2 linked regions of the Homo sapiens genome follow. The protein of the gene in region 1 interacts with the protein of each later gene in a biochemical or structural test. Each region holds a gene or a part of one and is shown on either strand. Other genes may lie near its edges.

What was found.
Region 2: the proteins of USH1C (region 1) and RASSF6 interact in a test that uses a peptide from one of them, tested with the Homo sapiens proteins (one large-scale study listed by IntAct).

Annotation. Positions count from the first base shown.
Region 1 is NC_000011.10:17,509,917-17,513,416, forward strand, and holds part of USH1C (harmonin), read right to left. Parts: intron 2,139-3,500; coding exon 1,986-2,138; intron 606-1,985; coding exon 489-605; intron 1-488. UniProt on the Homo sapiens protein: Anchoring/scaffolding protein that is a part of the functional network formed by USH1C, USH1G, CDH23 and MYO7A that mediates mechanotransduction in cochlear hair cells. Required for normal development and maintenance of cochlear hair cell bundles.
Region 2 is NC_000004.12:73,571,050-73,573,243, forward strand, and holds the end of RASSF6 (ras association domain-containing protein 6), read right to left. Parts: 3' UTR 501-2,194; downstream 1-500.

The DNA.
Region 1 (3,500 bases):
TTCTAATCTGTTTCTCTTGCTACTGGAGACCCACCACCCTTACATCAGAACCATGGGGCGCCATTCCTCTGCCACCTGGATGCCCAGCTGAGGCCATACTAGGCTGCTGTTAGGGAGTGCCCAAATGCAGAAGAGCCCCAAGTTATGCCATCTGTGGGTGGTAAGGTGTTCACAGAGTTCATTCTCTAAACTGGAATGCCCTTGAGAGTGTAAGGGGGACTCTTAGTCATGATGCCAGGACAACAGGCCTAACTGAGACTATCGCAGATGAGCTGGGACTTAGAGATCACTCTGGGAGTATACCCAGAAATACAGACATATCCCTCCTCCTCAAGAGGGGAGTGGGGTGGTAGGGGTGGGCCTGGACAGTGGATGGGCACTGTGAGGCTAGTGACGTTTGCTAGTTGTCATCTCACCTCCCGCTGTCCCCACAGTGGGTCATTCTGAAGACAGCAGGAGGGTCTATGTGGAAAGAAGGGCTCTGTTACCTCTGAAATCTCATTATCAGCAGAGGAAATCTGCTCGAGGCGCGTTTGACAGAGCCTCTCCACCCAATATTGAATCTTTTCCGATTCTTCAAGGTCTTCCCGCTCTGTCTCAGACACCTGGGACCCAGGATCGGCGCAGAAAGGAGAGGACAAAGGGCACATTTGAATAACATGTGGATAGAAATAGCATGAAAGCACTCCTTTAGAAACTCCAGAGTACTGTGAGGTGCATCAGCTATCTAGAAAGAGACCTGGGCTTGTTCCAACTGGCCCTCAAGGAGGCAGCAGCAAGGGAGAAGAGAGTGGCGGGGTGTCAAATTCACTAAGCAGAACTTGTAGGCAAAATCAGAAAAGGGGCTTATGTATTGTGAGGGATTAGCTGGATCCCAGATCCCCATGAACCCTGAGGCTCTTATGATTTTCCAAGAATGGAGTTTTTGTAGCCTCCCCCAGCACATTCCAAGAGTTTAACTTGACTCTTTTTTTTCCTGCTCCATTCTGCCTTGCCCTCAGAAGCATAAGTTCAATCTTATTTTTAATTTTGTGGCTAATTTGTTCATAATGTCAGACCTAATGCATTTCACATTTTCCAGGACTTCTCTGGTTTTATAATCTAATCAAATTGGCATTCTGATTCATGGATGCGTTAAAGAGAAGCAGAAACAATGATACCTCCTACAGCTGGGGAGTTAAGGTTACCCATCTCACCTAGCATAGGAATTATTCATGGTGTAAGGTTGCTTTGGACATGTCTTCATGGGGACAGCCTCAGATATATTCCCAGGTTGATGAGGTCTAGCCTTAGACACACCCTATGTTGAGGGGAGCAGCCTTAGACTGATAGCCTGATTAATTGGGAGATAACCTCGCACCTACCACCTGCATAAGGGGGTTAGCCTCAGACCCATATTCTCAGAGCCAAGCTAAGTTGGGTGGGGGGGGGTCTGGTCTTACAATAACCTGGGAAGGGAGGCCAGAGTGATTCAGACTCGTAGACAGGTCAGTGGAAGCCTAACTTCAAAGCTACAAGCAAGGCAGAAGGGTTAGCCGCAGACCATACTCTAAGTAGCCTCAGAGCCACACCTGAGATGGAGAGGCCCAGCCTTAGACTCTGGTGGGGTAGAGTGAAGAGGACAGACTCAAATCTCTAAGCCAGGTGTATCAAAGGCTAACCTGAGACCTACCATCTGGTCAGAAAGGCTAACCTCAGACTCACACCCCCCGACCAAGGAGGCTAGTTTCAATTCCAAAGCCAGGAGCAAGACTCACACCCCCAAGCAAGGAGATTAGTTTCAATTCCTAAGCCAGGAGCTAACCTCAGATGGCCCTGGGCAGGTGGCATGATCTCTCTCTCCAGGCTGGGGAGCAGGAAAGGGCTCACTCCACCCTTGTATGCCATTTGAGGAGAACAACTCCAGCTGGTCCTCTGGGAGCACATGGAGAACGACCACATTGTGTCCCAGGGTTGCTTGCCTGGCCTGCAGGCAGGACACATACCTCCTGGGCCAGCCGGTTGATCTTTAGCTGCTTTTCCTTCTCCAGCATTTCCTCTTTCTCTTTGTAAAGCTTTTGCTCAAACTCCAGTTCTTTCTTATTCTTTCTCAAGTCCTGCAGGCTGCCATACTTGGCTTTCTTCTTATCTTTTCCTTTCTGAGTAGATGTGGCATTGTTTATATGACAAAGGTTAGAAATAGTGTCGACAGCACAGCACACGGGGCATCCAGTCCTCACATAACACAACCATCCCATGGTGAGCCCCTCCCCCAGCTCTCTCACCACTCTGGACATCAGACCTCAGGTTTAGGACAGGAAGGCCACTGCTACCTACTGCAGAGTGGGAGACACATTCTCTTTACCAGCCAGAAAGACTGGCTTATTAGTTCACTAACTAGCTGTGTGGCCTTGGCTAAGTTCCTTAACCTCTCTGGGCCTGATTTGCCTCATCTCCAAAATGGTAAAAATACCTCCCCCACAGGCTTGCCACCCAGTGCCAATGAAATAACATCCATGAAAGAACTTTGTAAAAGTTCTGTATAAATAAAAAATAAAATAAAAAAATAAATAAGTGCCATATAAATAAAGGGCATTGTGCTGATTTTCCAGTATCTGGCACATGCCTTCTGCATCATCTCATGTTCAGATTCAGAGATGCATCCTGGGAGATTCCAGAGAAAATCTGGGAGGGCTGGCAAGCTTCATCTGTAGAGGTCCCGTCCTAAGCTAGAAGTGATAGGAGTCACACTGAGACCTGGGGGCTCAGACCCAGGGACATCAGATTTTACCCGCATGCTTAAGCTCTGGACCATTTCACCCTGGAGAGTCTAGACCCACAGTTTCCTCTGAATTGTGCCCCTCTACCGAGGGCTAGCTGGAAACTGCAGGACTGGGAGGCAGGGCATGGAGAGAATGGCTTAACTGCTTTACACTCACCATCAGGGTTCTAGAGGATTTGGGGAGGGACATGAAAGGCAAATAGACTCCTTATTTTTCCTGTAGGAATTAGACCCACCGAGCCTGCATTCCTGGCTGCTTCTCTCATGGGGTTGCAGGGAAGCCAGGGGCTAAGGCAGGAAGAGAATGATCATTTATGAACTGCCTATGTGCCAAGGGATTTATACCAATGATCTCCTATGTAGGTTTATCCTCATTCTTTGATGAAGGAGCTGAGGCTCAGAGAGGTAAAGTCCCTTGTTCAATGTCAGACATCTTGTAACTGATAGTACCAGGATTTGGACCTGAGTCTTCGAGGTCCTAGTTTTTCTATGGTGCCCTGATGAGCTGGGGGCAAGGGAAACACGGCAGGAGGGAGGGTCAGCCCCTATCACACACAGCGTGGAGGACAGAGCGAGCATTCAGGAGAGGGGCAGCAGAGACAGCCCACACCCTGGGCAATTTCTGGGGCAAGGAGGAAACCCCCTGTTCACTGAGCTCACCCCCGCCCCCAACAAGCCTTCTGGGGATCTGCTCTTGAATTTTCTGAATCATCTTAGTATCCAAGGCCAGGAATAAGGA
Region 2 (2,194 bases), on another chromosome or scaffold:
CTTCTACTAAAAACCTTGGCAAATCTCCTAACTGCTCCATGGCTTACTTTCTTTATCTGTAGCATGAGGTTGAAAGAATAATTTCCTTATGGAATTGTAATGAATATTAAACGTAGTGCCCAGCAAATAAGTTGTTATTAGTTTGAACAATATGAAATCATTGCCTTTGTAGGTCAAATATTGGCAATTTCAAATGGCTCAATCTAATAGGTATTAGATGTTATTAATTTAGAAGACAAATGAATGTCATTGAAAGGTTTTGCCCTCTGTAACTACATCCTATTTCTTGTTCTTTCCCATATATATGCCTCCACCTAATAGTTATACCTGCTGTCTTTATCACTTCATCAATTGCATTGCAAGGGGCTTCTTTCCCCTTCAGTTTCAAAAACCAATCTAAATAGCCCTAAACCAAATTAAACAGTAATGACACCTAACTGAATATTTCATAGTAGAGCCAAGAGATAATAAAATATACCACTATATCAGGGAAAAACATATATATATATATAATGTTTAATATTTTTTCAGCTATGGGACCAGACTTGTAATAAGTAATACATACATATGGGGAATTTTATAAAAATATTTCAGATAATTCCTTCACTCATTCATTTATTCTTTCATTCACTTATTTATTCAATCAATTTTTATTGAGCACATCCTACGCACAAGACACAATATTAGGTACAGAAAAGCTATAAAGATAAATGTGACACATTCTTTACCATTAATAATAATATATATTATCTAAAATTTAATTTGAGCTAATATATAACTGACAATGAAATATTTGGACCACCTAAAACAAGGATAAATTATTCTGTGACAAGTTTATATTCTTGCATTATGCAAAAATGATTCGAAAATAAACTATTTTTTTCCCAGAAATTGTATGAGCTATACATTGCTATGTAACAAATTGCCCCAAATTTAGCGGCGTACTACAACAAACACTTCTTATCTCATACAGTTTCTGAGGATGAGGAATCCAGAATGGTTTCCTTGGGTTTTCTGGCTGAAGGTCTCTCATGAAATTACGGTCAAGCTATTAGACAGGGCTGCAGTCATCTGAAGGCTTGACTGAGGCTGGAAGATCTACTTCTAAAATGGCTGTTGACAGGAGGCCTCAATTCCCTGCTGGCATTTGATAGAAGGTCTCAGTTCTTCATCATGTAGGTCTTTCCAGGGCTGCTCAGGACATGGCAGTTGACTTCCCCCAGAGCAAGTGGTCCAAGAGAGAGCAAGGAGGAAGCCACAGTGACTTTTATGACCTACTTCAAAGTCTCACAGTCTCTTCCATTTTCCTGTATTAAAAGTAAGTCCCTAATTGCTAAAAGAGTACATTTTTAAATGTTCTCACCACAAAGAAATTATAAGAGGTTATGGATATGTTAATTAGCTTGATTTAATAATTCCATAATGTATACATATATAATAATATAATATTGTACCCCATAAATACATACAATTATTATTTGTCAATTAAAAATAAAATAAAAAGACGTAAGTCACTAAGTCCAGCCCATTTTCAGGATGAGGAAGATTAAGCTTCATCTCTTCAAAGGAGAAGAATCAGACTTTATGGATATAAAACTACCACAGAAGTGATGTTAATGTCTCATTTGAATAATTGATTTGAAATTTTTTGCATTTGGTAGAACTCTGTGCTTGCATGTGCTTGTTACTTTTTTGTTCATAAGTTTTAAATAATAACTTTACTATTTCCTGATGTAAAAAGTAACAAATATAAACTATAGAACACTTAATACAGATAGGGAAGTTAGAAAAACATGAATCACTCATAATTCTACAATGCAGATATAGCCATTTTTAACATGTTTTTATTTCTTGTGTGTATATATATGCAAATATTAGTGTTCACACACACAAATACATATATATATACACACACATACATATATAATATATATGCCTTAAGTACATAATAAATATTTTGGAACATGTGTATGTGTATATTCTTATTTAGATATATAAGAATTTACCCCTGTAATTAAAATTACTTGGAAACAGAATTTTAATGGCTACATAACAATATACAAATAAATGTTTATTTCCCTCTTTTTTTTTTTTTAGAGACGGAGTCTTGCTCTGTCGTCCAGGCTGGAGAGCAGTGGCGCCATCTCGGCTCATGCAACCTCCGCCTCCCGGGTTCAAGCGATTCTCCTGCCTC